Regions from separate parts of the Homo sapiens genome. Here regions 2 and 3 are each linked to region 1. Evidence: fine-mapped expression QTL. A gene starts in region 1. Each other region holds a variant in brackets. All regions are shown on one strand. Distances are from middle to middle. Region 1 holds the start of GNAI1 (G protein subunit alpha i1). Region 2 overlaps LOC105375373 (a long non-coding RNA gene). Region 3 has its middle 27 kb from the start of GNAI1.

What was found. PIP is the estimated chance that this variant, and not a neighbour inherited with it, causes the effect. A credible set is the group of variants that fine-mapping cannot tell apart.
Region 2: its variant is the best candidate, but not a certain one, in a credible set for the expression of GNAI1 in left ventricle (GTEx, PIP 0.62).
Region 3: its variant is the best candidate, but not a certain one, in a credible set for the expression of GNAI1 in lymphoblastoid cells (TwinsUK, PIP 0.66).

The regions. Positions count from the first base shown.
Region 1 is chr7:80,130,826-80,139,013 of GRCh38, reverse strand. It overlaps GNAI1 (G protein subunit alpha i1), which reads right to left and starts at 4,183. Exons shown (of 8, transcript NM_002069.6): 1 at 3,736-4,183. The coding sequence starts at 3,853.
Region 2 is chr7:80,322,587-80,330,774 of GRCh38, reverse strand. LOC105375373 (a long non-coding RNA gene) reads left to right here. Exons shown (of 5, transcript XR_007060401.1): 5 at 248-582. Among named protein-coding and RNA genes, the nearest start is that of GNAT3, 190 kb to the left of the region's middle. The variant T/C (reference allele first, on the strand shown) is at 3,325.
Region 3 is chr7:80,103,383-80,111,570 of GRCh38, reverse strand. No RefSeq gene overlaps it. Among named protein-coding and RNA genes, the nearest start is that of GNAI1, 27 kb to the left of the region's middle. The variant T/G (reference allele first, on the strand shown) is at 5,028.

The DNA of each region.
Region 1 (8,188 bases):
AAAGCCCTGCATAGCCAACATTTCTCAACTAGGGGAAGTCACAGGGCAAGTTCAAAAGGAGTGAAGATTAATGATGCAGCATCCCAAAGGGCTGCCTGGTGGCAGCAATAGAAAAATATCCACCAAACAGAAGAAATCCAATCCCTCAGCTCATTTTCCCCCAAACCTGGAATATTTAAACCAAGCTGAAGAAGGAGACAAGGGTGTGGAATTTTGTATATGAGGGGGAGTGGAGCGGAAGGAAGGACAGTGAGGTGGAATAAATGAGAATACTGCTCAAAGCTTTGGAACAGAAAATAAATTCATGATCATTTATTTGTATGTCAAATCTTATGTCCTCCAAATACATAATAAAATAATATTTCATAAGTACAAGTAGTATACTATAGTTACCTACCGAAATAAAGCATAAGCTTAATCTTACTGCCCTTAAAAGGATGATAAATTAAAACATTCTCAAAGATATAACAATAAAAAATAATTTCCTCAACAATTAGACATTATTATATAAAAAACTTTCATTATTACTTACTTCTTTAAAATGTTTCTCTATTAAGTATTATCATCCTAATAAGCATAAAAACTAAACCTAAAAGACAAACAACCCAAACTCTGGCCTGATTTCCTTAGTGTCAATGATTAGACTAGCTCCTCTTTTTTTAAGGCCTAATTCACTGCTCAGTATAGTGAAATACCTCTGATTTAAATCATATAGACAGTGCCAAAATCTTTACTAATAGTGTGCAAGTCTCATATCTAAATTACTCAGCCCAGCTGTTTAAAATGACAATACATTCCTTAAGAAAAAAATGCAATATATTTAACAGACTGTCTTAAAAGTACTTTAGAGATTTTATGCCTTAAATTTAAAAAACATCATGTGATGAGAAAAACAGAATAAGTGAAGATGAACACGATCTAATGTAAATGGCTGTGACACTGGTTATACGTTACCTAGAAACGATTTTACATTTCTAGTTTATTCTACTGCCGTGTTTTACATGGAATTATTTCATTTAGCTGCTTACACATATGCTTTAAGGATTCAAAAAAGAACCAAAAGGTCACAATTTACTACTAAAGTCAAATTAGGAAAACAATGTTTTCGAACATTCCAAGAATTGAATTTCTGGAATAAGTAAGCCAGAATTCTGTTTACAGGACTAGGGTGATGGAACTCTGGGCAAAAGGGTAGACTAGAACGGGGATAAGACAGAGGAGAGTGCTGGGCCAGCAGGGACAGCCAGGATTTCCAGAGAGGAGAGAGGTAGGGAAAAGCAAAAGACCAAAGCTAGAAAAGACAGCCAAAAGAATTCAGTCACTTAAAGATTTCTAAAAATCATTCTGAAATATTTCCAATGGTACCAGTACTGGTTTAGAGAAATAAGAATTCTGGCCGGGCAAGGTGGCTCACGCCTGTAATCCCAGAACTTCGGGAGGCTGAGGCGGGCGGATCACCTGAGGTCAGGAATTGGAGACCAGCGTGGCCAACATGGTGAAACCCGGTCTCTACTAAAAATACAAAATTAGCCGAGCATGGTGGCACGCACCTGTAGTCCCGGGTACTCGGGAGGCTGAGGCTGGAGAATCGCTTGAACCCAGGAGGTGAAGGTTGCAGTGAGCCGAGATCGGGCCACTGCACTCCAGCCTGGGCGACTGCGCAAGACTCCGTCTCAAAAAAAAAAAAAAAAAAAAAGAAAAGAAAAGAAAAAAAAAAAAAGAAAAAAGAAAAAGAAATAAGAATTCCATAATTTCTTCTGAAAATGAGGCCTCTGCTACATCTTTCTCTGAACTCACTTATGATGACTGTCAAGATTCAACTTCTGGTTCTGTATTATACATTCAGTTATATTTAAGTCTTAATCTAGAACAGTGGTCCTTAACTAACGCTGTATTTTGCCCCCAGAGGACTTCTAGCAATATGTGGAAACACTTTTGGAGCTCACAGGTTAGGGGGCTGCTACTAGCATCCAATGAGCGGAGGCCAAAGATGCTGCTGAACATCCTACAATGCACAAAAACAACCTGGAGAACAAAGAATTACCCAGCCCCAAATGCCAACCGTGCTAAGATCAAGACACACTGATCTCTTCTGAACATAAGCAAAAGCCTACTCCTGGGACCTTTATTCTAGTCCATCCCTAACAGTCACCTAATTAAAGGACAAAACACCACCACCAGATGATTCATTTTTCAATTGCTTTAAACATGGTGGATGGCTGGCTCAAACTAAGAGTCACACAGAAATACACTGAAACAACGTATCACACCAGGAGAGCAAAAACTGCAAGAAAAAAACTTCTTAATCCTCTTATTTCATATCTATCTCACATTCAATTCACAAGAGAAGTACATACACTAACCTCATCAAAACACAGTATTTCTTATTAATGTAAAAACTTAGGCAAACAACATTAACTGAGAAAGATTTATGTTGGGGGCGACAGGGTGAAAAAAGCCACCCAGGTCTTTAAAATGCAAAGTTATTTCACAGTTTACTTGCAAAATGACTCAGATCATTATTACTTTTAGTCATGCCAACTTTGCTGCTCCCAAGCCTACTAGTAATGGAGAAAAAAAACCCACCATTTTTTCTGCAGTCATTAAACCAATGAAACAGAAGCTTACTGAAAACAGGTTTGTGCAACATTTCTTTTTTATTATAACTGGTATAAAAATACAAGCAGTCCTTGGAAATGCAAATGAAGATTCTGAGAAATTTTTCATCTATCTAAATACCTAGAGTGTGAGAAGAAAACATGCAAACAAAAGAAAACCCTAACTCACGAATCTTAACCTGTAAAGATTTTCCTAATGCTTCCCTCAGTGAAAACCCTGGTTTACTCTTTATTTTCTTCCCCGTCAAACATTTGGAAAAGACCTCCACGTAGCGTTTCACGAACAGAACAGTGCTAAGAACAAATAAAAGCCTTGCGTGTACCTGGCAAATCTCATTCATCAGAAACGGTGGCAGCGGAGACAGAACCCTGTTGTCTGGCGTGACCCTCTCGCTCTTTCACAGCAGTTTTCACCACTCGAGTATCTGCCTTGCCTACTACTAAAGCAAAGCTTCCCAACCCCACTTGGGTGGCTTCCATGCCCCCACAGCAAGAAAAATCAAGCATCCAGCGCAGCCTTTTCTCAGCGCAGGGGGAATGTAATCAGCGCTCCTTGACCACTTAAGGAGTCGCCATAGGAAGTTAACAGGAAAGACGCTTCAGCCCCATCTCAGAGGCCCCACAAAAGGTGCACTGATTTCACCAAACGTGGCACTCTGGGCATGAGAAAACCACAGTCGAAACACAACCTACACCGCACACGAAGAAGGGTTTTCCGGGAGGGGGTTGGTGGCGCGGGGGGGGGGGTGTTTTCATTTTCTAGCCGCGAATGCCCCTTCATCTTTACAAGGCTGAGCTAAACTTCAAAGCAAAGGGTTTCCACGCGACCCGCCGCCTCGGACTCGCGCCTGGGCTCTTTGCTGGGTCGCACGAAAGCATCCGAGTGAAGTGACGCGCCCGCCCCGCCGCGGGGAGTCCTCGCCCGCCGGGGCGGAGAGAGACCAGACACCGGGAGAGGGGGACCCGCCTTGCCTCCGCACCGCCGGACCCAGCTCCCGCTCAGAAGCCTCCTCGGGCGCTTCCTCCCCCTTCCCTCCGGGTTTCCAAACGCCGAGGGCCGCGCAGCGCCGCACCCGGTCCCCCGCCGACCCCCGGGCCCCGACCCGGCCGCCCTTACCGAGCAGCAGCAGCTTGACCTCGCGCGCCGCCTTCTCGCCGTCCTCACGGAGGTTGCGGTCGATCATCTTACTCCGCTCCACCGCCGCCTTGTCCTCGGCGCTCAGCGTGCAGCCCATGGTGCCGAAAGCGAGAGCCTGCCGCCGCTCCCTCCGCGCCCGAGTGCGGGCTCCAAGCACAGGGGAATCCTTTCTCTCTCCTAGCGGGCGTTCGAACGCCTCCCGACGGGGGCCACGCCGCCCCCACCACTTCCTAAGCGGAGTCGAGGGAGACGCTGTCCGCAAAGGGGCAGACAGCAACGGGCGGCTGTTCCTCACGACCAGGCTCTGCTTCCCGGCCCGGCTCAGCGCCCCCAAGTCCCGGGTTTGGGGTTTTGAATCTCTGGGTACAGTGGCCGCTGCACTCCCGCCGGTGGCCGCGCCGCAGCCTCGCCAAGCCCAGCCGAGCTCGGCCTCCGCGCGCCGCCGCGGCCCCGCCCCTGCCCGCCCCTCCCACCACCCCGCGACCACTCCCAGAGCGCGCGCCCGCGCACGTGCCCTCGGACAGCGCCCCCCGGCCCCGGACCCCGGCGCCGCGCCACCACTGAGGGCCTGGCGCCCCCTGGCAGCGTCCCCGGGGCGCGCCACTGCCCCGCGGGGCTGTGGCCTTCTGCCCTGGGCGGGAGTGGGGTAATTTCTTTCCGTTTACTCACACGGAGGGAGCTGTGCGTACCTGCCCCTTCGGGTGGGGGTGGGAGAGCTGCCAAAGTTGCCGAAAAAAGCCAGTTCTGGGCGTTTGAGCATGCCCAGCGCCGGCAGCCACGCAAGGTTTTTCAAAATGCAAATCCCTGTCGGCTGGTTTCAGGGCCGTGAGAAACAGGGAACTGGGGAAGGAATGGAGCCTGGTGAAACCAGAGATGGGCACAGTGGAGAACAGGAAAGTCGGGGGAGGGGACTAGAAAAGGGCACCAAGGTCACTTTCTTCCTACCTTTTGCTTCTCTTTCCTTCTTCCTATCCCTCCCTCTTTCCTTGCACTCTCACGTTTTTCACAAGAACGCATTTTGAAGGATTTCCTCGTAACCTAAAAAAAATGGAAGACAAATAATCAAAAGTATTTTTAAATGACAAGAGCAATAAAACACACCCACACAAGCCAATCTCCACATCGTAGCAGATCTCCTCTAGAGCAGCACATAAGCTTCCATGCCAAATTTGGAGCCAATATTTATGACCGTGTTTGTAACTCCTGTACCATTGGGCATGCCATTTTTACAGGCCTTAGCTTCTTTGCCCATAAAATGAGGAGTGGATCTATGGTGCTATCTCCCCATCCTTCCAGCTGTAACAATCGGCGGAGATAAGTTCCTGTGGCCCGCGGGAGGCATTGCTACTCAGCACCCAATGAATGAGCAGAGGCTTAAGATCTCATCTCTCCCTGTCAGTTGCACTACACCTTTCCCCTACAGATATCACAGGAAGCGTTAACTGATTAGAAAATGGGGCTGGTAGCAAGGAAAAACATGGTCCTTGATGTACTAAAAATTGGAACATGCTCCCTGGTTTTCATCTGGAAATCTTATTCTCTAAAAATCATTTGGGAAAACTGGGCTTGAGTTTTCCAAGGTGAGGCTGAACTGATGATACAAGCAGAATAGCTTTCGAGTAGGTCACTGAGACCACGCTTGTGAGCTAGCAGAGACTGAGTTGCCTCCTTATGGGACATGTCCTTTCCTGTTCTCCTATGGGAGTCACACCACCTGCTGGGCTGATGAGATGCAATTTCAAGATCTGCCTCAACTATAATCTTTTGTAATATAACAACAAAAAGGAACAATCTTTAAATGTACTTAGTCACCTTCTACACTGTAATTCTAGGCACTCTAAATGCTAATGTGTATCAGAACTCTGGAATTAAACTTAAGGAAATCAAATTTCAACACACTGTGTATTAGCCATTCTTAATTATCTTTTATGGTGAGTCTTTCCTATTAAGTTCGGACCAGAGTGTGGAACCAACAGTTTCAGCAAAAGAAGAAGCAGTGCTGGCTGAATATTGGTAGAAATGACTACAAAACTTGTGTTTCGGAGAAATGAAGTATGTGTAACAGAAGTTTGTCAAATAGGTAACATTACTTCCATCCTTTGAAGTTAGTCAAATAGGTGAGTTAAAATGTGATACATAAACGAATAAGAACAGCAAATTAGATTTATATGTAGCACAATTCCTAAGAGAATGCAGAGTAATGAACTGATCAGTATGGGGGGAAATTCTAAGATAAGAAAGTTTTGAAAAAACGTTTGAAGGAAATGATAACAGGATATTGGTGGGGAGTTTAAAGAAGTATGTATTAGTTCAGGCTGCCCTAAAAATACCATAGCCTGAGTGGCTGAAACAATAGGAATATATTTCTCACCGTTCTGGAAGCTGGTAAACCTAAGATTAAGGTGCCAGTTTATTCAGTTCCTCAGTGAGGGTTCTGCTGCTGCCTTGCAGATGGCCTCTTTCTTGCTGCGTCCTCACATGGCAGAGCAAGAGAGAGAGAGCTTGAAAGCAGTCTGGTCTCTCCTCTTCTTATAAAGGCCCTGTCTTAAAGGCCCCACTCTCAAGACCTCATCCAAATCTAATTACCTCCCAAAGGTTCCATCTCCAAATACCATCGTATTGTGGGTTAGGGCTTTGGAGACATTCAGGCCATAATAGGGTATATTTTGTTTGAGGGGAATAACCAGCTAAACAGTTAATATGCAAGATACGTGAAAGAGAAAACAATGGTTTTATAACTGAAAGTTGTTTGGTTGTGAAGAATGATAGGATGTGTGGGACAAAGTTGGTGTGAAGAATGATGGGATGTATGGGACAAAGTTGGAAGACAGCTTTAAATGCTAAGGTGAAGGGTTGGACTTGATACAGTGGGTACAAAGTGCTCCTTACATTCTTTCCTGAGTTGGGTACTAGATGTTAAAAAGCAAAGAAATAAAAAAACCCTCTTACCACTACATGTAAAACAAATGGGTACCAGCAAGTGAATTGTGTTAGTAATCCAAATGTGAGGTGGTGAGAGTCACTCAAGCTAATAACTTATGTAATTATGATGTTGCAAAATATGATTCAACCTTGTCAAGGAGATGAAGCAGATATTATTTATTTATCTCTTTTATACAGAGTGAAATTGAAATTATAGAGGTTAAAGCACTCTACTTCAGAATACTGTTTTTTCTTTTCAACATCATGTTTGTTTTTTAACAGCTTTTTTTTTTTTTTCCCTCGGGTTCAAGCTTTTTTGAGATATAAGTCATATGCCATAGAATTTGCCTATTTAAAGTGTACACTTCAGTGGCTTTCAGTATATTCACAGAGTTGTGCAACCATGATTACAATCAATTGTAGAATATTTTCATCACCACAAAAAGAAGCTCTGCATTCCTTAGCCATCATCTCCAATCCTTTATCTTTCCCCAGATCTAGACAACCGCTAATCTAATTTCTGTCTCTTTAGATTTGCCTATTCTGACATTTTATATAAAAGGAATCATATAGTGTACAGTATTTTGTGACTGGCTGCCTTCAGTTAGCATAAAGTTTTCAGGGTTCATCCATGTAGCATCCACCAGTACTTTATTTCTTCTTATTTCTGAATAATACTGAACATTATATGTTAAGAGAGTTAGAGACATATGTTAAAAGACAAATTAGAACACATTCAGCTGAGAGCCTCAGGTTTTCAAAGTAGCTACAAACTATGTCATAAGGAATAATTGAAGAAATTGGGGGATATTTAATGTAGGAATGAGAAGATATGACTGAAGAGATGTCATAAATCAAAAGGAATAGACTTTTTTAGCTGGCTTCAAGGTGGTGTTGAAACCTGTAGCAAACAAAATTTTGCCTTGCTATGTTGTGAATGGGAGACTTACCATATGGAATTAAGAAGTAAACATGGAGAATGCAGAAGCTGAATAAGGAGACTTTTTCAAGAATCTTAACCATGGAGAGGGGTTGACACATGGGATGGTAGTTGGAGAGGTAGGTTTGGAATTTGTTTCATTTCACTTGTAACTCTTCTCAAATATTATTCAACTGAGAAAAAAGGATTGCTATTGATATGGTTTCACTGTGATCCCAACTAAATCTCAGGTTAAATTGTAATAATCCCCACATGTCAAGGGTGGGACCAGGTGGAGATAATTGAATCATGAGGTCAAATTCCCCCATACTGTTCTCCTGGTAGTGAATAAGTCTCATGAGAGCCAATGGTTTTATAAGTAGGAGTTTTCCTGCATAAGCTTTCTTGCCTGCTGCCATGTAAGACGTGACTTTGCTCCTCCTTTGCCTTCCACCATGATTGTGAGGCCTCCCTAGCCATGCTGAACTGTGAGTCAATTAAACCTCTTTCCTTTATAAATTGCCCAGTCTTGGGTATGTCTTTATTAGCAGCATAAGAACAGACTGATACAGTTATGGGACAAAGGAAAAA
Region 2 (8,188 bases), 190 kb before region 1:
AACAATTTGAAAACCTGGTTTGGAAGAGACAGCAAAGATCTGTTAGATTCAAGAAATTGGGAAGTAAGGAATTGCAAGAAACCACTACTTATTTCCTCAGCTGCCTTCAGCATCAAAGTGGGTGATTCAGCTGGATAATATTGGGAAAATGCAGGCAAAAATTTCAATCTGCTTTATTATAATCCTACAAATCTACAAATCAGCTGCTTACTCACTAATTGTGCTTCCTTCTCTTTTTTTCTGCTAGGAGACTGTTTTCCATGGGTCTCTCACATTTCTGGACATCTTGCAAATGAAGGCACTCACTGACTTTATTTCAAATTATCTTTTGAAGGATGTTTATATAGCAAATGACAGAGAAAATGTCTCTCTCTAGGGTGAAGACCAGATAGAATTACTGCTCATTTTAAAAGATTCAGGTACCCTATGTTTAGAATTCCTCTCTTGTACCCCACCCCATTATGTGTGCAGGTATTACCCAGACTTCTTTGTATTATCCTGTAGATTTGTGTCTTCCAGAACCAATGCAAATGCTGATACTCTGGTTTTTGCTGTTCTGAATAATAAAGTCATTAATATCTAGCCTAAGAGTCTCATGTCTTCTGGCAGCTTCCATGAAGCAGTGGCAGACTAACATGATAGCTTGCAAGAAGGGTAAAACTTCAGATGTTTCCAGTTCTTGATATTGAATTTCATTAGTCGTAGAAGGACCTTTGTTTTCTGCAATATAGAAAAATATCACAGAAACAGGCAAACATAAATAAATATTGGCTGCCAAGCCCGTTCTTTAAAAATCATCTAACAGCTCTTTTTATTCACGTTAACTTTACAAATGCTATTGGTTTTGTTTTTTAGATCATTCATACCTCATTCATTTTATCTTTTATATTTATTAAATCCTTACTTATAAATTCTCATTTATATATATATGGAACAATTAAATTGTTACTCTCTACTTGGCTTTAATTTAAATTAGAAGCAAAAACATACGTTGTCTCTAACTGATAGCAATTTTCTTTTATTGTTTTTTCCTAACTCCTTAAGTTGAATGGTTTGTATATTTGAAAACTAACTATAACTTTAGTCGCATTTCATAGCTTTTTCTTTGAAGTATCCTTATTTTAATAAGTTTCCAAGTAATTTGTCCTGTATAATCTTATTTCTTCTTTTTATTTTATTTTATTTTTTAAGTTCCAGGGTACATGTGCAGGATGTGCAGGTTTGTACATGTGTCATGGTGGTTTGCTGCACCTATCATCCCATCACCTAGGTATTAAGTCCAGAATGCATTAGCTCTTTTTCCTGATGCTCTCCCTGCCCCCCTGCCCTCCTACAACAGGTTCCATTGTGTGTTGTTCCCCTCCCTGTGTCCATGTGTTTTCATTGTTCAGCTCCCACTTATAAGTGAGAACGTGCGGTGTTTGGTTTTCTGTTCTTGCATTAATTTGCTGAGGTTAATGGCTTCCAGATTCATCCATGTTCCTGCAAGGGACATGATCTTGTTCCTTTTTTTTTTTTTTTTTTTTTTTTTTGAGACGGAGTCTCGCTCTGTGGCCCAGGCGGGAGTGCAGTGGCGCAATCTCGGCTCACTGCAAGCTCCGCCTCCCGGGTTCACGCCATTCTCCTGCCTCAGCCTCCCGAGTAGCTGGGACTACAGGCGCCCACCATCACGCCCGGCTAATTTTTTTTGTATTTTTAGTAGAGACGGGGTTTCACCGTGTTAGCCAGGATGGTCTCGATCTCCTGACCTCGTGATCCGCCCGCCTCGGCCTCCCAAAGTGCTGGGATTACAAGCGTGAGCCACCGCGCCCGGCCGATCTTGTTCCTTTTTATGGCTGCATAGTATTCCATGGTGTGTATGTACCACATCTTCTTTATCCAGTCTATCATTGATGGGCATTCAGGTTGATTCTATGTCATTTTTATTGGGAATAGTGCTGCAATGAACATACACATGCATGTATCTTTATAATAGAAGATTTATATTCCTTTGGGTATATACCCAGTAATGGGATTGCTGGGTCAAATGGTATTTTGGTTCTAAAATATTGAGGAATCACCACACCGTCTTCCACAATAGTTGAACTAATTTATATTCCCACCAACACTGTAAAAGTGTTCCTATTTCTCCTCAACCTTTCCAGCATCTGTTGTTTCTTTACTTTTTAATAATTGGCATTCTGACTGGAGTGAAATGGTATCTTACTGTGGTTTTGATTAGCATTTCTCTAATGACCAGTGATGTTAAAATTTTTTTCATGTGTTTGTTGGCCACATTTATGTCTTCCTTTGAAAAGTGTCTGTTCATGTCCTTTGCCCACTTTTTAATGAGGTTGTTTATTTTTTTCTTGTAAATTTGCTTAAGCTCCTTGTAGATTCTGGATATTAGACCTTTGTCTGATGGACAAATTACAAAAATATTCTCTCATTCTGTAGATTATCTGTTCGTTCTGTTGATAGTTTCTTTTGCTTTGCAGAAGCTCTTTAGTTTACTTAGATTCCATTTGTCAATTTTTGCTTTTGTTGCAATTGCTTTTGGTGATTTCATAATAAAATCTTTCCCCATGTCTATGTCCTGAGTGGTATTGCCTAGATTTTTTTCTAGGGTTTTTATAGTTTTGGGTTTTACATTTAAGTCTTTGATCCACCTTGAGTTCATTTTTGTATAAGGTATAAGGAAGGAGTCCAGTTTCAATTTTCTGCAGATGGCTAGCCACTTTTCCCAGCACCATTTGTTAAATAGGGATTCCTTTTCCCACTGCTTGTTTTTGTCAGGTTTGTAGAAGATCAGATGGTTGTAGATGTGTGGTTTTATTTTTGAGTTCTCTATTCTGTTCCATTGGTCTATGTGCCTGTTTTTGTACCAGCACCATGCTGTTTTGGTTACTTTAGCACTGTAGTATAGTTTGAAGTTGGGTAGTGTGATGTCTCCAGCTTTGTTCTTTTTTCTTAGGATTGTCCTGGCTATATGAATCTTTTTTTGGTTCCATATGAATTAGTAAATAGTTTTTTTCTAATTCTGTGGAGAATGTCAGTGTTAATTTAATGGGAATAGCATTGAATCTATAAATTGCTTTGGGAAGTATGGCCATTTTCAAAGTATTAATTCTTCCTATCCATGAGCATGGAATGTTTTTCCATCTGCTGTGTTTTATCTGATTTCCTTGAGCAGCACCTTGTAGTTCTCCTTGGAAAGGCCTTCACTTCCCTTGTTAGCTGTATTCCTCTGTATTTTATTGTCTTTGAGGCAATTGTAAATTGGAGTTTATTCATGATTTGGCTCTCTGCTTGTCTGTTGTCGTGTAAAGGAATGCTTGTGATTTC[T/C]GCACATTGATTTTATATCCTGAGAATTTGCTGAAGTTGCTTATCAGCTTAAGAAGCTTTTGCGCTGAGACAATGGGGTTCTTTAGATATAGGATCATGTCGTCTGTAAACAAAGACAATTTGACTTCCTCTCTTCCTATTTGAATACCCTTTATTTCTTTCTCTTGCCTGATTGCCCTAGCCAGAACTTCCAATAATATGTTGAATAAGAGTAGTGAGAGAGGGCATCCTTGTCTTGTGCCAGTTTTCAAGGGGAATGCTTTTGGCTTTTGCCCATTCGATATGATATTGGCTGTGGGTTTGTCATAAATAGCTTTCATTATTTTGAAGTATGTTCCTTCAATACCTGGTTTATTGAGAGTTTTAAACATGAAGAGATGTTGAATTTTATTGAAGGCCTTTCTGTGACTATTGAGATAATCACATGGTTTTTGTCTTTAGTTCTATGTATGTGATGATTTATATTTATCGATTGGCTTATGTTGAACCAGCCTGGCAGCCCGGGTTGAAGCCAACTTGATCGTGGTAGATGAGCTTTTGATGTGCTGGTGGATTCTGTTTGCCAGTATTTTATTGAGGATTTTCACATCAATGATCATTAGGGATATTGGCCTGAAGTTTCATTGTATCCCTGCCAGGTTTTGGTATTAGGATAATGCTGGCCTCAAAATGTTAGGGAGGAGTCCACCCTTTTTAATTGTTTAGAGTAGTTTCAAAAGAAATGATACCAGCTCCTCTTTGTACCTCTGGTAGAATTCAGCTGTAAATCCATCTGGTCCTGGGCTTCTTTTGGTTGGTAGGCTATTTAGTACTGCCTCAATTTCAGAACTTGTTATTGGTCTATTCAGGGATTCGACTTCTTCCTGGTTCAGTCTTGGAAGGGTGTATGTGTCCAGGAATTTATCCATTTCTTCTAGATTTTCCAGTTTATTTGCATAGAGGTGTTTATAGTATTCTCTTATGATTGTATTTCTGTGGGGTTGATTTCTTCTTCGAAGTAATGGTTTTTAGAAAGCATATTTGTGATTCTTCCCTTTCATTCAAAATTTGAAGAGTATTTGCACAAAGTACTTGTTATGCCAAATGTTGAAGAGGAGAGAGCAGTTTATCTGAAAGAACTGTAAATTTTTGCATGTTTGAATTAAAAAAAGTTGATTTAATGTACAGTACACATCAAAATGCATAATGTTTTGCAAAGAGATAGTTCTTTTAGATCTTCGTACTTGCCCTAGATCTGTAAGATGTTTTATGTCGTTTCCCCCAACATTCTTTAGAATTGAAGTCGGTACAAAATTTCTAAAAGGTAATTTCATAGCATAAACAAAAAAACGTTTAAAATTTGATCAAAAAATTCTACTTCTAGTACTATATCATAAGGAAATAATTGCACATGTTGGCAAGGATATATTCAAGAGAATAGTCATTGTAGAGTTCTTTCATTAGTGAAAAATTAAGAACAACTCTAATATTCATTAATAGATGCTTAAGTGAAAAAAGTAATAAATCCACTATTTGAATTCTGTGTATTACTGAGAATGAAGACTTACATATCAAAAAGGAATGGAAATGTGTTCATGATAAAGGATTGAGTTATATGAAAGCAGATTTTGTTCCAACTTACAATTAAAATATGTGCATATTTTGTAGTTATGTATGTATGAGAAGTATGAAGACTCCACATCAAAAAGGTATTAGTTACTTGTCTCAGTGTTTTGATTATAGATGAGTTTTCTTCTTTTGCTTTATTTTCTAATTTTTTCTAATGAATGTATATTATTTGTGCAATATATATAACGTTAACAACAAAAGTTTTCCCTTTCTTTCTTTCTTTCTTTCTTTCTTTCTTTTCTTTTTCAATGCAGGATCTCACTCTATCACCCAGATTGGAGTGCAGTGGCACAATAATGATGCACTACCTTGATCTCCCAGGCTCAAGTGATCCTCCAGCCTCAGCCTCTCAAGTAGGTGCCACCATGCCCAGCTAATTTTTTTTTTTTTTGAGACAGGATCTCACTCTATTGTCCAGAATGGAGTGCAGTGGCATGATCATGGCTCACTGAAGCCTTGACCTTCCAGGCCCAGGTGACCCTCTCACTTCAGCCTCTCTGGTAGCTGGGACTACAGGCATGCACCACCACACCTGGCTTATTATTATTTATTTATTTATTTGGTAAAGATGGGGTTTGGCTGTATTGCCCAGACTGGTCTTGAACTCCTGTGTTCAAGTGATCTGCTCACCTCAGCCTCCCAAAATGCTGGCATTACAGGCATGAGCCACCATGCCCGGCCCTGATTTTTTAAAAAATTTTTGTAGAGACAGGGGTCTCACTATATTGCCCAGGTTGGTTTCAAACCCCTGGGCTCAAGCAATCCAAAGTGCTGGGATTACAGGCACGAGCCACTGCACCCAGCCCCTTTTCTGTGTTTTCAGTGTGTAAAAAGTTGCCAGCTGCTACAGATGTTTACAGAAGGTAGTTAAAAGAGACAAACTGTATGAATTAGAAATGTTCATTAAAACCTGCCGAGGCCTCACAAGATGAAGATTAAAAAAAAAAAATTTGTCCAAGCAAACTGCAAGATCACAAGCAAGATCCATGTCTTACCATTAGTATTACAAGCAAGATCTATGTCTTACCGTTAGTGTTAAGTAATCTGAAATGCCTTAAGGGTACTAAGGCAATCATATTAAAGAATGCTTTACTTTTTACTTAATTAGAGCCAGATTTTAATTATGGGGAAAAAGTAGGGTCATGGCTTTTCTCAGTACCAAGCTTCAGGAGGAGGGTTACATAATTTGGAAAACAGAATCTAAATGTTCTCTGTTTTCATTTATATAAGAAATTATAAAAATAAATAAATCAATAACCCAAAGAGGCCTCCATTGCTAAATAGATGCTGCTAACCTAAGATATACAACATAAAATCCTCATGGATGTTGCCCTTCTTGAAAAGTAGCTTTCCTGTTTTCCTGCAAATTTAGGAAATATCTGAAAGTCCCCATTGTGAATGAGGGTGCCTAATTGTCTGGGGCTTTTACCTTTGCAATTTCATCCTCCTAAGACATCATTTCCTTGAATCGTAGTCTTGGTTCCTACTGGGCCAAATTCCACTGGCATCAATCCAAATGCCACGAACATTAGAAACATTCACATGGATCCAACATTGTCTACATACTTTCTTAATTGGATAATTGTCATTCTGTACCTGGACTTTGATGTTGGCAAATTGCCATTGAATTTTTCTATAAGTATGTGTCCTCTGCTACCCATCTGTAAACTAGCTTCTGTGTTTCCATTGCGGTTATATTAATCACAGAACTCTATCACCAAGATCTAGCTCAATGCCATTACCATCTCACCATCTTACTAATATATTGGCTCAATGACCATTTTTCAGTGCCTCAAAAAACATTTAATCCATTTACATTGTTTCTCCTGCACAGAGACAATAGTTGAATCAATTTTAACAAATAAATTCAGAAGCAAAAAATTACATGGCATATCTTATTTCTAGTTTAAAACAACCAATACCAAAGTTATCAACCAAATACAAGACAGCAGACTACCTAATAGAAAATATATATTCTAAAGTCAGAAATTTTTTTTTCTAAAACAGAAACACAAGATTTCCCACTCTTCACCCCACTTTACTTTTACATAACAAAATTATTTCTTCCAAAGAGTCCTAAAGAATCTCTCTCCTTAGACTCTCTGTACAGCTGGTTCCCTTTGTCAAAGAAAAATGAGACCCTAACAATAGTTAAGGTGGTAAAAACAGGATTTACTTGGAAACTACTTCAACAGGGGAAAAGATATCTCAGTATAGAATTGGGCAAAATTATGAATACAAGGAAAAGTGGGAATTTATGGTTAAAGAGCGTGTAGTTGGTAGATGGAAAATTATTAAGAGGAACACATCAGAGGTAAAGATAGATTTTGGCTGAACCCACCTATTATGATTCTTGCTGAAGGCAGGCCAGGGGATCAGACATCAACTCAGGGATGGTATGGACGAAGAGTTTGGTCAGATTAGAGGGTAACTAGATATCAAGGGTGGGGGGTTCTGGTGAACTTACTTAGCAGAATTCTTGCTAAAATTAGGCTCTTGGAGGATATTCCCAAGGACAAGGCCTAGTGGGGCTCACAGCAGCCGACTAAAATTTGGTCCAGGGAAAAATCAATGTCAGTTCTTCCTCTTGTTAAAGGGAAGAAGATACATTCTTCTTTCCTTGGAACAATGTAAGTGCATTTCTTTTTTGGTTGCCTTTTATTCATTAAGGATTAGCTGAACCATCTCTTGGAAGCTGCTAGTAGAGGATATTTGCTGAATAGTGCTAACAGTCAGGAATACAATGAAAGGAATTTCTATGAAAATTAAAGTAAAACAAGGATAAGTAGTTGGAAACTTCGTTTGAGTCCAGGGACCAGCCAATTGAGAAAATTTCTAAATGTTTTTCTCAAGGACGAAAGTGGCAGTCCCACAGATGTCCTTGTCTGTGTTTTGAATGTCTTTGGTGATGGCATCAGGAGTTCTGATGAACTTTCTGAGTGGCTCACACAGAAGCAGGCACAAGGTTTGCCCGTACATGATCTATTGCAGTGATTTCTTCAAAGTTTATATTAAATCACCCAGCTTCAGAAAAGAGCAGTTTTATTTCTTAGTAACTCCAAGTCAGGAGGCTGGGAGAAAAATTGGAAACTTTAGTTTTCAGAATTGTAGCCACGTCAGAGGAAACCAGAAGAATTGAGAACCCACAAGGGTACACTATAGGTTTTTATCAATACATAAAATTTATCTCTACAGTTACTTCCATTTTGATTCTTGTTGACAAAATATGCCTAGTCTCATTAGATTTGGCCTGATT
Region 3 (8,188 bases), 27 kb after region 1:
GAGTCAAATATCCAAACTATAGCACTTGCTTTTCATGTTTTCAGTTCATTGCTACCAAAATCTATTGCAAACTAAAAAAGCTTTACCAAACAATAAAATAAATATTTATAGACTTACAATAAATGACCAAATTACTGTACCAAGAGATTATATTCTCTACATTATACAGTAGAAATATCATATATAGCTAACCTTTCATTTGCCGTATTTCCTGTTGACCCTGCTGACTGTTGACTGGTAATTTCGTGCATTGTCCAGTCTGTGGTATTTGCCATGACAGAGCTGGCTAGTTTACCAAGTGTCTGGCAGAGGCTGCGGCTTCAAAACTTCTCCCATCACCACCTGAAACTGCAAAGAGTTGACTGTCTTAGCCACTCACTTCCAAATGTACTTGGTTTTCTCAGTGAGCATACTATATGCTGTTTGAAAGGGAGATGTTAGTTTTACTAAATATGGAAAGGCTCTAGAAAAGGTAGCTATTGCATATTGTTTTAAATATATAACCATGCGCCTGACCAACTGACAAGCTGGGAATACAAAGAGTAGATCTAACTCATCTCTGATTATTTTAATGCAAATATTGATACAAATACTTTGATAAAAATAAAAAATCCTGGACAAATGCTAAACAGGAGTAAATGAAGATTGTCCAAGCCAAATTTTACTTGAGGTCACTTGTATGCACACACATGCACACACACAGACACACACGCAATTGGCTCCTAATTGGCCTCCTTTAATCCGTTCTTGCTTTCATTCCAAGCAGTTTTTTCCAAAAGAAAGAAACAAGAATCAGAAGGGCAAATAGTAACAAAATATCTCTATAACTGACCACATGAAGAGGTGCCCTGAACTCGCAAAGACAAGCATCTATTCTGTGGGTTTAGTGTAATCTTAAGGCAAAAAGCTATTTATCAGTTTTTCAGGCATGATGGCAGTAGCCATTATAATCATCCATCTAATGTTTTGGGTTCACAGTAACTTTCTGATTATAACATTGCTTCTGACACATATTTTCCCCAGGAAGAGAATGTGCTGATTAGCAAACATGAGTATCCTTTCTTCTTGATAACGCAATTCTTTTTTTTTTTTTTTTTTTTTTGAGACAAAATCTTCCTCTTGTTCCCCAGGCTGGAGTGCAATGGCACGATCTCGGCTCACTGAAACCCCCACCTTCCAGGTTCAAGCGATTCTCCTGCCTCAGCCTCCCGAGTAGCTGGGATTACAGGCGCCTGTCACCATGCCCTGCAAATTTTCGTATTTTTAGTAGAGACAGGGTTTCACCATGTTGGCCAGGCTGGTCTCAAACTCCTGACCTCAGGTGATCCACGCACCTCGGCCTCCCAAAGTACTGGGGTTACAGACGTGAGCCACCGTGCCCGGCCGATAATGCAATTCTTATTTTAAAATAACAAATGGGCTCTCTGGATTAATAAACAGTCAAAAATATTTTGAATACATATTCCTTTGGAATATTGCCTTCTATCTTTTCCTGTTACAGTACATTCTAGAAAGAATAGCCTTTGTCTCTGATTTCTCACTAATTCATTTATTCAAAAAATGTTTATACAGAACGCAATACCTGATGGTGGGAAAACTTCCAGAACATACATTTAGACAATTTTTGAAATAGGACCAAGTCCTGTGTACTTTCCATTGCATTACAACTTCTTTAGCTTTGGAAATATTTTCAATTAATGCAATGAAAGTGAATGGAGTGCTTAATCACTTCATTATTTAGGGATTTTTGCCTTTGATTCAGTGACAGATTGAATATTATTGAAACTGTGATTTAAAATGCTGAAGAAATTAACCAGAAAACATATTGCTAATCATCCTTTCATATCTTTTTCTATTTTCAAAAAAATTTTCCAAACTACAGTACTTTATAATAAAGTCTCTTATTTCTACAAAATCCTGAACTGTGCCTGTTCGTTTAACTGACTCACTCAATGGCCAAATTGCAACATATAGATTCTAAAGAGAATTTAAGATGTGAAAAAGTTGAATATGATTTGGGCTGCCTTTCTTTGGAATTTATTTATTTCCTACGCCACCTGAAAACCTTTAAAACTTCCAATATACTAGGTTTTTAATTCCTTGAGCATCTCTGCTCAAACTCTTAATGTGCACACAAATCACCTGGGCTGGGGATCTTGTTAAAATGTAAATCACAATTCAGCAAGGCTGAGGTGGGGCCTGAGAGTCTGTATTTCTGACAAGCTCCCAGGAGTCGTGGATACTGCTGATTCAGGGATGCATTTGAATAAGAAGGCTCTAGAAGACAAACCAAAATGCTAATAATTTGGAATGTTTTATGAATGTATCAAAAACATACAAATTTTGATAAGTATCCTTGGTAATATATATTGATGTGCTCTCAGGGGTAATCTGTGGGCCCAGCATTGCCTAGGAATGTAGGACCATCAAAATGAGCTTTCTGTTTTAAAAACAGAGTATACCCAAATTATTACAAACCAGTAAGTTAATCACTTGATGTGCGTTATTATCAGGTATTTAGGTATGTACAACTGTGTTAACATAAGTGATACATTTATGGCTTATCTAGTTTTCTTGGCTGTGAACGCTAAACTCAGTTTGCATACCACGTTTGTGAAAATATTTTTAAATATGGAAAGTAGTCAAGAATTCATGAACAATAACATTGATGTCCAATGTGTATGTACTCTTGTATGGTTACAAACGATTTATTACTATAAATATTTGTTACTTTCCACTTGGTTTAATTATTGGATACTTAAAAGAAATTTTCTATTATGTAACAGTTTAAAAATAACTTGTTGTATTTTCTATTTTTAAAGAAAAACAATCTAGTATAAAATGAAAATTATAAAATATCATGAAAGTAATGTTTTATTATCAATTAATATGTTGAATGAAGTATATAAGGTCTTTCAGCCCACATACTGCTTCTTCCAGCTCCCAACAAACATCAAAATGCCTTGATATTACCCTGCTATTTTAAGAAAATGGGCACTTAAATAACTCAGTTCTTCTATTTCTATGGTAATCAGAATGCTCAATTTCTATTTGATTTTTAAGTTAAAGCAGTCTCATTTGCATACGTACAATAAAAGTTTTTGTGTGTTGCTAGGATCATTTCCATAATTCTATATTTTTCATCTTATCATTCTTGACCCTGACATTGTGCTATAATTTGCAAAACTAAAATCCATTCAGAAATAATCATTGGCAGAAAAAGTAAAAGCCAAGAAGACAGATACCACATTTAATGCAACTTTGCTTTTTCACAGTAACCCAATGGACAGGAAGAAAAGCATCACAAAGTGGTTCAGCATAATGGTAGGATTGATTAACTTGCTAGAAATAGACAGAGTTTTTATCCAAGTTTGGATTGGCTCATACCAATTACTGTATGATTTCACTTGGAAATGGAGCCAGCTACAAGTAGCTATGTGCCTAAGCTGAATACAAAAATTGTACCTATGCCATTACTCTCCCTTTTTGTCTAGAATACACTTATATACATAGCAAAAGCAAGGATAAATAGAAACAGCAATACTTATAAAAATACTTTTTCAATTCTTCCTGGAATGTTTGTGTTTTACAAATGTCTCTATACATTTTATTTTTTGTAAACAAGAGTCTTATTCTGCGTGTCTCTTAGTATTCTAGCAAACATTTGTGCCATGTTCAATTATGAATGCATTCCTTTAATTGAGACGATTGAATAAATTATATGCTTAGGTGATGAAAGCACTTTCTTTTCTAAATAAGCAGTTTGATATAAAATACTTCAGTAAGTAACTTATCTGTATTTTACTGAATTTAGAAATTTATATCAGGAACTTTTATCTACAGGAGCTACATACTTCTTGTACTAATTTTTTTCTGGAATAAGACAGTGTGACCAGATGAAGTCAAATATAATTTCCATGCAGCTTTTTCTTACACTCTGAAGAGCAAGCACTTAGGCAAATAAAAGCAAAACTGTACCTCAAAAAGCCACATCCTCAATGGATGTCTTTTAGAGGAAGCACTATTTTTTTTTCCAACCAAAACAGGATACTTACAGCCTTCAGAGATAAAATAGCAGAACTTACCAGTCTCTTAGCATCTGAAACCACAGTCTGTACCTGTCATTTATTGTTTTGTAAATGAACTAAAAATAGAAGATGGATGGGCTGTGTGAAATCCATAAATTCTGTTAATGGCCTACTAAGAAGCCATGTGTTTAGGACACTCGATGTTACTCAATGATTCTCTTTCCATGTTGTTTTAAAGAGAGCTCTTAGAGCACTTGCTTATTTTGTCATTTTATTGCTACCTTGACTTCAAGGTAAAATAATGATTTTAGCTTATTTAGTTTCTTTCTATAAATGCACTCAGCACATGATTTTGCCTTCTAATTCCACAGAAAGTCAAGAGTTCTCAATTTCCTGTCCCTCCTCACTTAACTCCATGAAAACAAAGCTGCGTCCACATCAGTTATTTCTCTTTCTAGTCTCAGGGGCTGTGCTTATGTCCAAAACTGATGCTAATCAATGTTGTTCTCTGGATATTTGTACACCCTCCTGCTCAAGATAATCTCTCTACCAATTTTCTCTCTCCCCTCTTCCTTTCTCTCTATCAGCTCTCTAACTCTTTATTGCTATCACTCCATCTCTTTATCTCATCTCTATCTTTCCTTTTGTCCTATATTTTCAACTTCCTCAGCTCCACTGGCTCTTTCAGACCCTTTGTTTTCTGAGTGTAAGCACTCTTAGTCACTTCTGTTCTGAAAGTATTATAACTGCCCCTGTTTCCTTCCTTTTGAAACAAAACTTCTTGAAAGGGTAGAGCACTCTAAACATATCCATTTCTTCACTTCCAATGCAATCATGAGCCTGCTGCAATTTGGCCTCTGACAGTATTTAAGACACCAAAGATGACATTAACTCCCTCCACATAAAACAGTTTCTAGGTAATATTTAACTTGGATTATGTGGCATTTGCTAGACAGTTGAGTATTTCCTTCTTAAACTTTCTTTTTTTGGCTTTCTTTT[T/G]CGTTTCCTACATCTCCTTCTATCTCTCACTAGTCTTGAAACAAAAATATTTAAGTAAAATTAGTAGCAGAGCTGAACAAATTCTTAGACATAAAAGAAAAATGAATGCCAATCTGATTTAGAAAAAAAAGCCGTCAAACTGCCCAGACCCTAAAATTATATATGAAAAGCAGTCATTAGCTAAACTTCTAATTAGTTAAATATATAAAACTATAATTTTATTTTCAATTATCACCATAGGAAGAACTGTTTTATTCTACTCACATGTCATTGGGTGGAAAATACTGCTAGTGTTGCTTGAACTGAACAGGCCAGGAGAAACCACTGAACAGGGAGAGGCAGCCAAACTTTTACAACATTGGTAATGATTATAGGGAAGAGGTGCTAGACTCTGGATTGTGTCAGTTTTCTCTTTCTCAAAAAAGGAAGGTTTAAAAGGAACTAATCTGAGACATTTTTTAAAAAAGCAAGTTAATATTTCTGTTCCTGCTAAATTCTACATCCAACTTTAATGAGGAAGAGGATATTTGTTTCCTAAGATTGCCTTAACAAAGTACAAAAACCAGGTAACTTATAATGACAGGAAGTTATTTTCTCACAGTTCTTGGGGACAGGAGCCTGAAATCAAGATGACAGCAGGGCCATGTTTCCTCTGAGGCTCTAGGGCAGGATCCTTCCTTATCTCTTCTAGCTTCTGGTGATTGCCGTCAACCTTCGGTGTTCCTAGGCTTGTTGACGTATCACTCCAACCTCTGCCTCTGTCTTCACATTCCTTCCATTTCTCCTGTGTGTGTATCTATCTCTGTGTTCCAATATCCCTCCTCTTTGCCACCTTCCTCTTCCTCTTCCTCCTCTTCTTCTTCTTTGTCTTTGTCTTGCTCTGCCACATAGGCTCTGGAGTGCAGTGGCATGATACAGCTTACTGTAGCCTCAACCTCCTGGGCTGAAGCAGTCCTCCTGTCGCAGCCTCCTGAGTAGCTGAGACTATAGATGCATGCCACCATGCCCAGGCCTGGCCGATTTTTTTTTTGTAGTAGAGACAAGGTCTCCCTATGTTGCTCAGGCTAGTCTCAAACTCCTGGGCTCAAGTGGTCTACCTGCCTTGGCCTCCCAAAGGGATTGCAGGCATGAGCCACTGTGCCTGGCCTACCTTCTTTTTATAATGGCACCAGTCATATTAGATTCAGAGCTCACTCTACTCCAGTATGAACTCATTTTAAGTTGATTACCTCTGCAATTTCCAAATAAGGCCACATTCATGGGTTCTCAGGAGACATGTATTATATGGGGATACTATTTAACCCAGTATATTTTTTTTTAAAAAAATGACTGATCACACAGTATTTTTCTGCCTCTGCAAACCTCACTAAAACAATATTAAAACAATAAAGTAATAAAAAAGAGCTACCATAACAAATACAAAAACAAAGATACCCATTGGAAACTGACAATACAGGAAATAGTTTTTAAAATTTGAAAATAATCTAATATTCTCAATGAGATATTACAAGAGTAGGATGCTATGGAAAGGAAAGAAAAGAGAATAAAACTATGATAGAAATAAATAACATTATAAAAGGACTGAAAGATAAAGCCAAGGACCAAAACTTAACACACACACACACACACACACACACACACACACACACAGACACACACAAAATGTGAAAATAGTAAACATAGAAAAGAAAGGAAAAATTCGTGAGGTTCAGCAACTATTTTATATAAAATATATAGAGAAAAGAAAAAACAAAATAGATTAACTATCAAGAACTGTAAAAAACAATTTTTAGAAAGACATGAATCTCCAAATTGTAGGTGTCCAGCACAAGTGGCCCATAAAAAAATAAAGGCAGACCTCACAAATCACATAAAATGTGACATTTCAAAATAACGAGCATCAAGAAGAAAAAGCTTCTAGAGAAAATAACAAAGGTCACCTACAAGAGACAGGAAATCCAAATTGCATTAGCCTTCTCAAAAGCTATAATGAAAGATAGAAGACCTTGGAGCAATGTCTTCAAAATTATTGATGAAAATGATATTTGATGAATAATTTGATAGCCAAATTATCAATCAATGATGAGAATAAATTAAAGTCATTTTTAGAAATGCAGAAATATATGTCAGTTACTAATTCATGGGAAGCTATTGGAGGATATACTTGAACAAATAAGGAAGTAAATTAAGAAAGACAGAGGTAGTATTCAGCAAAAATGATCAATTCTAGAAAAATATCAGTAAAATTTTAAGGATGACAATAAAGGGAAATTCCAGGACAACTGCTGTGTGGCTTTCCTAGAGAGCAACCTGTCCACAGTGGATCAGAAGAATGGAGAGCTCCAGTCAAGTATTCTTGATAGAGACAATTTCCTAAACCTGATAAAGGGCAGCTACAAAAATCTCACAGTCAACACCATGCAAAATAACAAGAAAGGATGTCTGCTCTCACCACTTTTAGGCAGTATTGCACTAGAGAGTCAAGCCATGGCAAGTAGGCAAGAAAAAGAAAAGCATCCACACTGGAAAAGAAGAAGTAAAACTAGTTCTCTTTGCAGATGACATGATGTTGTATATATATAGTAAATACTAAAAAGCCCACTAAAAACTATTACACGTTTACAAGAGCAAATAATAAACAAGGTTGTAGTATACAAGATTAATATAAAAAGATCTATTTTATTTCTATATACTAGCAATTAACCACCTGCAAATGAAATTGAGAAAATAATTCCACTTACTCTAGTATCAAAAAAATAAAATTCTTAGAAATAAATAACAGAAGTGCTAAATGTATATTTTGAAAACTATGAAATAGAGTTGAAAGAAATTTTAAAAAACCTAAACTTATGGGTTGCAAGGTTTACTTATTGTTTGGATTATTGGATTATGTATTATTTGGATATATAATAAAGATGACAATGAATGTTTGTTATTCATTATTATTTATTGTTAAGATAGCAATTATTTATTAAGATAGCAGTATTGTTAAGATAGCAGTACTTCCCAAACTTATCTACAGAATCAATGCAATTCTTAACAGAATAACAACAAACTTTTTGCAGAAATTGACAAGCTGATTCTAAATTTCATATGAAATTGCAAGAAACCCAGAATAGCCAAAATAATTTTAAAAAATGAAGAGCAAAGTAAGCAGATTC